3 linked regions of the Homo sapiens genome follow. The protein of the gene in region 1 interacts with the protein of each later gene in a pairwise test. Each region holds a gene or a part of one and is shown in the gene's direction. Other genes may lie near its edges. The genes, in order: VEGFA, SLC16A2 and U2AF1.

Evidence for each region.
Region 2: the proteins of VEGFA (region 1) and SLC16A2 interact in a two-hybrid assay, tested with the Homo sapiens proteins (one large-scale study listed by BioGRID).
Region 3: the proteins of VEGFA (region 1) and U2AF1 interact in a two-hybrid assay, tested with the Homo sapiens proteins (one large-scale study listed by BioGRID).

The regions. Positions count from the first base shown.
Region 1 is NC_000006.12:43,776,592-43,780,244, forward strand, and holds part of VEGFA (vascular endothelial growth factor A, long form), read left to right. Parts: intron 1-877; coding exon 878-1,074; intron 1,075-1,868; coding exon 1,869-1,945; intron 1,946-2,297; coding exon 2,298-2,327; intron 2,328-3,653.
Region 2 is NC_000023.11:74,515,347-74,518,999, forward strand, and holds part of SLC16A2 (monocarboxylate transporter 8), read left to right. Parts: intron 1-3,653. UniProt on the Homo sapiens protein: Specific thyroid hormone transmembrane transporter, that mediates both uptake and efflux of thyroid hormones across the cell membrane independently of pH or a Na(+) gradient.
Region 3 is NC_000021.9:43,097,529-43,101,181, reverse strand, and holds part of U2AF1 (splicing factor U2AF 35 kDa subunit), read left to right. Parts: intron 1-662; coding exon 663-729; intron 730-3,653. UniProt on the Homo sapiens protein: Plays a critical role in both constitutive and enhancer-dependent splicing by mediating protein-protein interactions and protein-RNA interactions required for accurate 3'-splice site selection. Recruits U2 snRNP to the branch point.

The DNA.
Region 1 (3,653 bases):
AAGCAGTTTGCCCTCTTGGGCGGGGTTATCAGTGGCTGGCAGGGCTGGCACAGCGTGTCCGCCCACTGCCACCTGTGGGTTCCAGGAGGGCCCAGCCCCTGTGCTGATGCCCACCACCTTCTCAGCTCATGTCTGGGGAAGAGGACTGGCAGGGGGAAAGGTGCCTCCTCCTGAAAGGTGCCTCCTCTGTTTTTGCCTAATATAGGCTTGGGAACACTTTGATGTCAGCTAATTCTGACTCCTTTACTTACTAGCTGTGCGGCCTTGGGGCAACTTACTTAGCCTCTTTGAGCCTCCTGTTCCCCATCTGTAAAATGGAATCTCAATAGTGTCTAATAGTACCATGTGGAGAAACTTGTGTGAAATGATAGCTGTGGACTACTGTACACAGTACTCAGGATGTAGTAAGTGCTCAATAAACAGCTGTTGGTATGGTTGACGTTATGGTAGTGGTTGTGGGGAGGACGTAGGAAACTGGAGACTAGCTTGGCAAAGCTGGCTCTTCCTCCTTTTAGGGAAAGCTTAGAGCATCCCCATGGGGTATACCCATACTCAGACTGTCCTCTGGCATCGAGGTTGGCCCAGGATTCAGTTCAGCTGTCACAGTGAGGTGGCGGGATCAGATGTGGCAGGCCATGTCCCTTGGAACTTGAGTACATCGTGTGATCTCTGGAATGAAAACAGGCCTTCACCAGTGTTGATGGTGGAAAGCTTAGGGAAGTGCTTCAAACACAGTAGGAGGGACTTACGTTAGATTTTGGAAGGACTTGCCTGATTCGGAAGCTCCAAAGAGTGGCATTACAGAGCTGGGTGGAGAGAGGGGCTAGCCATCTTTTGTGTCGCCCACCGGGCTCATGTGTCATCGCCTCTCATGCAGTGGTGAAGTTCATGGATGTCTATCAGCGCAGCTACTGCCATCCAATCGAGACCCTGGTGGACATCTTCCAGGAGTACCCTGATGAGATCGAGTACATCTTCAAGCCATCCTGTGTGCCCCTGATGCGATGCGGGGGCTGCTGCAATGACGAGGGCCTGGAGTGTGTGCCCACTGAGGAGTCCAACATCACCATGCAGGTGGGCATCTTTGGGAAGTGGGGCAAGGGGGGGATAGGGAGGGGGGTAACACTTTGGGAACAGGTGGTCCCAGGTCGTTTCCTGGCTAGATTTGCCTTGTCTGGCTCCTGCCCCTGAGTTGCACAGGGGAGGTATGGTGGGGTCTTGCCTTCTGTGGAGAAGATGCTTCATTCCCAGCCCAGGTTCCCAGCAAGCCCCAACCATCTCCTTCTCCCTGATGGTTGCCCATGGGCTCAGGAGGGGACAGATGGATGCCTGTGTCAGGAGCCCCTCTCTCCCTCTCTTGGAGAGAGTCCTGAGTGCCCCCCCTTCTTGGGGGCTTTGTTTGGGAAGCTGGATGAGCCTGGTCCATGGAGAGTTTAAAAAGTCTTTTGGTGTTACCTGGTAATGGGGCACATCTCAGCCCAGATAGGGTGGGAGGGAGCTGTGAAACACAGGGAGGGGGTTGCTTTCGGGTATCTACTAGGAGTCAGGGTGAAGCCTAGAGAGGATGAAAGAAGGGGAGGGGATGGGGAGTGGTAAGAACCTAGGATTTGAATTCCCAGCCTGGCCAACCCTTGCAGCCATGTCTTGGCCTCAAGTGGAACAAGGGCTCCTTGAGGCCAGCAGGGTTGGGGGAGTTGGGGTGGGCCTGAGCCTCTTTCCTGCTAGAGCTCTTGGTCCTCCCTGCCTCCACCACCCATCCCTGCTCTGCAGAACCCCTGGGTGCTGAGTGGCAGGAGCCCCAGGGTTGTCCCATCTGGGTATGGCTGGCTGGGTCACTAACCTCTGTGATCTGCTTCCTTCCTTTCCAGATTATGCGGATCAAACCTCACCAAGGCCAGCACATAGGAGAGATGAGCTTCCTACAGCACAACAAATGTGAATGCAGGTGAGGATGTAGTCACGGATTCATTATCAGCAAGTGGCTGCAGGGTGCCTGATCTGTGCCAGGGTTAAGCATGCTGTACTTTTTGGCCCCCGTCCAGCTTCCCGCTATGTGACCTTTGGCATTTTACTTCAATGTGCCTCAGTTTCTACATCTGTAAAATGGGCACAATAGTAGTATACTTCATAGCATTGTTATAATGATTAAACAAGTTATATATGAAAAGATTAAAACAGTGTTGCTCCATAATAAATGCTGTTTTTACTGTGATTATTATTGTTGTTATCCCTATCATTATCATCACCATCTTAACCCTTCCCTGTTTTGCTCTTTTCTCTCTCCCTACCCATTGCAGACCAAAGAAAGATAGAGCAAGACAAGAAAAGTAAGTGGCCCTGACTTTAGCACTTCTCCCTCTCCATGGCCGGTTGTCTTGGTTTGGGGCTCTTGGCTACCTCTGTTGGGGGCTCCCATAGCCTCCCTGGGTCAGGGACTTGGTCTTGTGGGGGACTTGTGGTGGCAGCAACAATGGGATGGAGCCAACTCCAGGATGATGGCTCTAGGGCTAGTGAGAAAACATAGCCAGGAGCCTGGCACTTCCTTTGGAAGGGACAATGCCTTCTGGGTCTCCAGATCATTCCTGACCAGGACTTGCTGTTTCGGTGTGTCAGGGGGCACTGTGGACACTGGCTCACTGGCTTGCTCTAGGACACCCACAGTGGGGAGAGGGAGTGGGTGGCAGAGAGGCCAGCTTTTGTGTGTCAGAGGAAATGGCCTCTTTTGGTGGCTGCTGTGACGGTGCAGTTGGATGCGAGGCCGGCTGGAGGGTGGTTTCTCAGTGCATGCCCTCCTGTAGGCGGCAGGCGGCAGACACACAGCCCTCTTGGCCAGGGAGAAAAAGTTGAATGTTGGTCATTTTCAGAGGCTTGTGAGTGCTCCGTGTTAAGGGGCAGGTAGGATGGGGTGGGGGACAAGGTCTGGCGGCAGTAACCCTTCAAGACAGGGTGGGCGGCTGGCATCAGCAAGAGCTTGCAGGGAAAGAGAGACTGAGAGAGAGCACCTGTGCCCTGCCCTTTCCCCCACACCATCTTGTCTGCCTCCAGTGCTGTGCGGACATTGAAGCCCCCACCAGGCCTCAACCCCTTGCCTCTTCCCTCAGCTCCCAGCTTCCAGAGCGAGGGGATGCGGAAACCTTCCTTCCACCCTTTGGTGCTTTCTCCTAAGGGGGACAGACTTGCCCTCTCTGGTCCCTTCTCCCCCTCCTTTCTTCCCTGTGACAGACATCCTGAGGTGTGTTCTCTTGGGCTTGGCAGGCATGGAGAGCTCTGGTTCTCTTGAAGGGGACAGGCTACAGCCTGCCCCCCTTCCTGTTTCCCCAAATGACTGCTCTGCCATGGGGAGAGTAGGGGGCTCGCCTGGGCTCGGAAGAGTGTCTGGTGAGATGGTGTAGCAGGCTTTGACAGGCTGGGGAGAGAACTCCCTGCCAAGTACCGCCCAAGCCTCTCCTCCCCAGACCTCCTTAACTCCCACCCCATCCTGCTGCCTGCCCAGGGCTCCAGGACACCCAGCCCTGCCTCCCAGTCCAGGTCGTGCTGAGCAGGCTGGTGTTGCTCTTGGTTCCGTGCCAGCTCCCAAGGTAGCCGCTTCCCCCACACCGGGATTCCCAGAGGTTCTGTCGCAGTTGCAAATGAAGGCACAAGGCCTGATACAC
Region 2 (3,653 bases), on another chromosome or scaffold:
AATCTGGACCACAGAGAGAAAATAGATTGAAAAAAATGGAAAGAGCCTCAGATGCCTGTGAGGTTATAACAAAATATTTAACATTTCTGTCATCAGAGGAGTCCCAGAAGAGGAAAAAGGCAGGGCTGAAGAGATACTTGAAGCAATAATTGCTGAAAACTTCCCAACTCTGGTAAAAACATAAGTCTGTAGATTTAAGAAACTGAGCAAATCCCAAAGAGAATAAACTCAAAGAACTCTATGCCAAGACACATCATAGTCAAACTTTCAAAAGCTAAACACACAGACATGCACGTGCATGCACACACACACACACACACACATCTTGAAAACAGTAAGAGAGAAATGACACGTTAACTCTAGGGGAAAAACAATTAAAATGACAGAAGATTTCTCATCAGAAACCATGGAGGGCAAAGTGCTGAAATAAAAGCTCTCTTAGCTCAGAATTGTATATCCAGTGAAAATATCCTTCAGGAATGAATGAGGAAATCAATACATTCTCAAACGAAGGAAAACTAAGAGAATTTGTCCCCAACAGACCTACCCTAAAAGAATAGCTAAAGGAAATTATTTAACCAGAAAAGAAACAATAGAAGAAGGAATCTTGGAACATCAGAAAGAAAGAACAGTGGAAAAAGTAAAATTATACATAAATGTGACAGATATTATAATATAATTGATTTAGATTTCTTCTCCTTTTGTGTTTTTTTTTCTTTCTTTTTTTTGGAGAGAGGCTCTCACTGTGTCACCCAGGCTGGAGTGCAGTGGCACAATCATGGCTCACTGCAGCAGCCTCAACCTCCTGGGCTCAGGTGATCCTCCCACCTCAGCCTCCTGAGTAGCTGGGACTATGGGTGTGCACCACCATGCCCAGCTGATTTTTTGTAGAGATGGAGTTTTGCCACATTACACATGCTGGTCTCAAACTCCTAGACTCAAGTGATCTGCCCACGTTGGCCTCCCAAAGTGCTGAGATTACAGGCATGAGCCATAGTGCCTGGTCCCTTTTGTGTTTTGTAAATTAGGTTTAACAGTTGAAGAAAAATTATAATAATGCCTAATGTGGTTATTAATAGATGTAGAGGAAATATTTAAGATAATTTTATTATAAATGAGGGAGGGTGAGGAGATATAAGGGAGGTTAGGTTTCTACACTCCTCTCCAACTAGTAACATGTCGACACCAATGATGTTGTATACATATGATGTGATACCATTATATATATATAATGTGATTTCTTTGAGTACATTTTTCAGTGGCCACTAAAAAAGGTATACAAAGGAACACACTTTAAAGCACAATAAATAAAGTGGAATTCTAAAAACTTTTAAAGTAACCCATAGGCAGGCAGGATAAAAGAATACAGAGAAACTAAAAACAGAAAACAAACAGGAAACAAAAATAAAATTGCCCTAATGTATCAATGATTACATCAAATGTAAACGATCTAAATATATCAGTTCAAAGACAGAGATTGGCAGAGTGGATAGAAAAAAAAATCATGACCCAGCTATATGCTGTCTATAAGAAACTCACTTCAAATATGTATTTCCAGGGAATTATGCTGGGTAAAAAAAAGTCAATTTCAAAAGGCCACATACTGTATGACTCCATTTATATAACTTTCTTCAAATTTGTGATTGCTAGGAGTTATGGGTCGTGGGGGAGTGGGCTGAGTGTGACTGTAACACAAAGGAGATCTTTGTGGTGATGGAATAGTTCTGTATCTTGATCACAATGGTGGTTTCAGGAATCTACCCATGATAAAATGATACAGAACTATATGCACATATTGTGCCACTCCTAATTTTCTGGTTTTGATATCATGTTATAGTTACATAAGGGGAAACTTGGTGAAGAGTTCATGGGACCTCTCTGGACTATCTTGGCTATTTCCTGTGAATCTATAGTTATTTCACAATTAAAAATTTTTTTTTAAATGAAATAGATTAATTTTTAAAAGCTATATCAAACATAATTTAAAGTTTCTTTGACTGTACAAAAAATTCCTTATAAGAATAATCATCAGTTTTCATTATATCATAGACATTCAGAAGGGTCAAATAATGGTCAGTTCTAGTTATAAAATGTCAGTAAGATGATTTGCTAAATTTAATTATTTTTTTTCTCTTTGACAATACAACTGAGCTACTTTTTTACTCTGGCCAGAATAAAGATACATATATCATAAATGAGATCTTGAACTGGCACTTTCTGCTTTCCCGCCTTCTCCCCACCTTTAAAAATAACATCAGATTTATTGAGATATAATTACATATGGTAATATTCACCCTTTTTTACATGCTCAGTTCTATGAATTTTGACAAAAGAATACCACCATCATCAAGATATGTAACATATAAAGCTTAGAAAAGAGAGACTCAAGATGAAACTTGATAACATTTTCATTACCCCCAAAAAGTTTCTTCATGTCCCTCTGTAGTCAATTGTCTCCCTCATCCCTCCTCCTGCCACCTACTGATTTGTTTTCCTGTCCCCATAGTTTTGTCTTTTCTCGAATTTCCTGTAAGTGGAAGGAATAATTTGAGTCTGGCTTCGTTTACTTAGCATAACGCCTTTGAGATTGTTCAAGTTTCAGTAGTTCATTCCTGTCTATTGCTGTGTTGTATTCCATTGTATTAATGTGTATTCATTTGTTTATCCATTCACCAGTTGAAGTACATTTGGGTTGTTTCCAGATTTGCACAATTATGAAAAAAAAAGCTAGTGTAATCATCTAGGTTCAGGTTTTTGTGTGAACATAAGTTTTCATTCATCTTGAGTTAATATCTAGCAGTGGGTTTTCGGGATCATGGTAAATGTATGACTAACTTCACAGGAGGCTGCCAAACTGTTTTCCAAAGTGAGTACTGTTTTGCATTGCCACCAGCAGCGTATTACATTTCCAGTTCCTCCATATCCTCCCAGTATTAGGTATTATCATTTTGTAAAAACCTTTCTTTGCTGGGCACCATTGCTCACGCCTATAATCCCAGCACTTTGGGAGACTGAGGCAGGTGGATCATTTGAGGCCGGGAGTTTGAGACCAGCCTGGCCATCGTGGTGAAACCCCATCTCTACTAGAAATACAAAAAATTAGGCATGGTGGCGTGCGCCTGTAATCCCAGCTACCCGGGAGGCTGAGGCACAAGAGTTGCTTGAACCCGGGAGGCAGAGGTGGCAGTGAACCAAGATTGCGCCTCTGCACTTCAGCCTGGAGACAGAATGAAACTCTGTCTCAAGAAAAAAAAAAAAGAAAAAGAAAAGAAAAAAGGCTTTCTTGGTAAGGGCTATCTCATTGTGGTTTTAATATGCGTTTCTCAACTTATTAGTGATGTTGAGCATCTTTTTATATGCTTAATTACTATTCATATCATAAATGTATGTGCACATGTGTAATTGTGTAATCTCTGTTCAATTCTTTTGCCCATATTTTAAGTTAGATTGTTTGCTTTATTATTGAGTTATGAGAGTCAACTCACTCTTGTATGGTGGATACCGGTCTATTGTCAGATTTTGTGTGCTGCAAAATTTTTCTGTCTATGGCTTGCCTTTTCATTTTCATAACTATTTTTGAAAAGCAGAAGTTTTCAAGTTTGATCAAGTCTAATATATCAAATCTTTTCTTTTATGGATCATACGATTTGTGA
Region 3 (3,653 bases), on another chromosome or scaffold:
CCTTCTAGGGAGGGTCACTGGCCCGGCCACCTCCATTGATTGACATTTGTCATGAGAGCAGGTCCGTCCATGTGAAACGGATTTCAACATTTTGAGCCATTCATTGGTCTTTACAGTGACTGAACCCCTGGCCTTTATTAAGTTCTTTGTGTAAAATTAAAACTCTTAGGAATATTAAGGAATCAATAAGGTAAGTTGCCCAGTAAGTGTGGGTTTTATTTCACCATTATAATTTTTCCTCCAGGAAGTGGAGATTTCATGATATGTAACAATTGTATTTCTCTAATACAGTAATTTTTTCCATCAGTTTATGTAAGCATTATTCTTTCCGAGTTCATTAAAAATTTTCTGCCACATCTAAGAACATTTTGGTGCTAGCCTGGCAAACTATTTGTGCTTTTACCTGAATTGGAATTTTGAAAAGGAGAGTTTTCACGTTCTGTAAGCAGAAGTACAAGATGGGCATATCATGAGACCTCCGTTACACCGCAGTGTTAGGGATTCAAGGCAGCCGCCAACTGAGAAAACGCCTCTGCTTCTCCAGAAAATAACTTGCTCTCTTTTCAGCACTGAATCTCAACTGAAGCACTTGCCAGAGGCAGCCGGTTAAGTGTTTACCTTTAATTTTCCATAATATAAAGTTGTTGCGTTTTGTATTTCAGACCATTGCCCTCTTGAACATTTACCGTAACCCTCAAAACTCTTCCCAGTCTGCTGACGGTTTGCGCTGTAAGTTCATACAAGTTCCTTCCCCGGTTCCCTGGGCTTGCGTGTCAGAGCTCAGTGTCCACTCCATCTGGTCTGCCGTGCTAGTGTCAAGGACCGCGTTTCACTAGAGGTGGCAAGGAGCTTTCGTCCCACTGACCCCATGGAAACCTCTTTTGGAGATTTGAACTCCCACCGTGTGTTAAAAGGGAAAAAGTAACTGGAAAGGGTGCCCTTTAAAACAGTCTAGAGCTGGGCCGGGCGCGGTGGCTCACGCCTGTAATCCCAGCACTTTGGGAGGCCGAGGCGGGTGGATCATGAGGTCAGGAGTTCAAGACCAATCTGGCCAACATGGTGAAACCCCATCTCTACTAAAGATACAAAAATTAGCTGGGCGTGGTGGCAGATGCCTGCAATCCCAGCTTCTAGGGAGGCTGAGGCAGAGAATCGCTTGAACCCGGGAGGCGGAGGTTGCAGTGAACTGAGATCGTGCCGCTGCACTCCAGCCTGGGCGACAGAGTGAGACTCCGTCTCCAAAAAAAAAAAAAAAAACAGTCTGGAGCTGCTGCTGCCCCTTCTTCCTTTACTTTGGCCGTCATCCTAGAGGGAATGTACTGGAATTAAACGTCGAGTCATATTCTTCCCTCTTAGAGCAACAAAATTTGAATGTTTCTCTCACTTTCTGGAATTTTTAAAAAGCAAACTTTTTAAGTTATTTTTTCAGATTTTATTTCTCATTAGCCTTTTTTCCTTGAACTCCATTTTGGAGTGCACCCTGTAGTTGTAAGAGCATTGTGCTGAGAGCGTTCCCCAAATGAGGGTCTGCAGCTTGCACTGACCCCTGAGTTCCTCACCCACCAGCCCCGTGCCGACCCGTCTAACCCGTGTGGGGGTGCTCCACTCAAATAGGCCCTTGGCAGAAAAGATTGTCCGTTCTGTCCACACACTGCCTGGATACAGTCTCCAGCTCTAGGAGATGGAATTGGTTTGCTCCATTTAGAAATAGATCAAAACTGGGCATTCAGTAGATGGTACCAATATCTTCCTGTACTGGGAAATACTAAATTTAGATTGTGAATATTTACCTAATGATAATTTTTAGAGAAGGAGATATCATAGATGAGTATGATTGGGAAGTTCAGAAAACTAAAATTTGATTTTTACAGCCATCCAACTATAGAATCATTAGAATTTAGTCATTTATGGATAAATTAAAATGAACACCTGGACTCTTGTTAAAATCAGAAAGTCCAAACCAAAGATAGGCACTTCCCATTCACCATTCTGTTTTAAAGCAGTAAAAATTGAGGTGCCCTTGGATATCCACAAGCCTAAATTGAGTACACCCTTGAACCAGAGCCCCTCAGTTAATGGGGTGACCGACATGGGGTAGCTGATCCCAGGGGGCATTCCCCTCTCGAGCTGGCCCTGCACTGGGTGGCCTGGGGATTGTGCTTCCTTGCACAGTGGTGCACATTTCTATGTGTGGATGAGATTTTCTTGTCAACTTTTCCTGCCAAGACACTAAATGCTTTTCAGTGCTAATACTGACCTGATAGTAGAGATTTCTTTCCCTGAGTCGGATGGTAGCAGGATTTACTTGGTAACCCTTGGTTTAAAATACCTGTTTTTTTGTTTGTTTGTTTTCTTTTGTTTTTTAAGGAAATAAGATCAATAGGCGGAGGGAAATTGTTTCTATATGCACTTATTAAATAATTTTTGTTAACAACCCTGCCCTGGGATAAAAGTGAATGGAAGTACATGACTGAGTAACAGTAATTAATTCTTTGCCCTGATCGTTTATTTGGGGACTGTATATGCTTTCTTGACTGACAATAGAATGTTGTATTAGTTTTCATTGTGTCTTTATTTGCAGTTCACAGCACTTTTGTTTTGCATATGCTACAAACTAAAAGTTTAGCAATTACGTTATATTCCAATTCTGGAGTCCAGATTGTACAAATTAGATGAAATTCTAATTCGTCATTTTAGGAAGAAATCAATTACCTAAAATTACTGGCTCTTTTCAACATACCCTTTAGTATGTAAAAAAATAAGCTTCAAATGCGTGGGTTAAAGTTAACTATCAATCCCAGTTTAAGAATGATATTTCTGTAAGAAAACTGCTTTATTTTCCAAGTTGTAGTATTTAACATAGGCTGAGTCACAAATAAGTTTTTAATTGTATCTTAATGCAGTTGTCTCTGCCTTTCAAGTCACTTTGATTGAAACATTTTAAGCAGAACAAATATAGCCAATAATTTAAAATAATCACCCCAAAACCATTTCTCAAACCTGCTAAAACTTTGAGCATGTGAATAATTTTCTCCTCTTCACATTCTTCTTATGTGGGAAGGAAGTGAATTTGAAATATTAAAATCTGCCCTTTGGAATAGGCTACTTTGGCCGTTTATAACTTGATTTCTACTCGGGGAGGAAGGTACATTCCCAATAGCTTTCCAATTGGGATATCCTGTGATATGATTGGCAGGCTGTCCGAGTAGTTACACTTAATAAAATTTGGGTTCGAAAGCAGATTCCTGGAAGTTCAAAAATAACTAAAACAGCCCCGGATAGGTTAGAAAGTGAACTTAAATCATTCTCAGAATTAGAAAATAAGAAGTTATTTTTTATCTTCAAAGATAAAAAGGGGGCCGGGCACGGTGGCTCACGCCTGTAATCCCAGCACTTTGGAAAGCCGAGGCAAGTGGATCACGAGGTCGAGAGATTGAGACCATCCTGGCCAACATGGTGGAACCCCGTCTCTACTAAAACTACAAAAATTAGCCAAGATCACGCCATTGCACTCCAGCCTGGAGACAGTGAGACGCCGTCTCAAAAAAAAAAAAAAAAAAGATAAAAAGAGTTTTGAGCAAGCTCAAAGACCCGTGTGCCAGCAGTCAGATGCCCACGTTGGGTGCACAGGCTAAGGCAGCCGGCCCAATCTG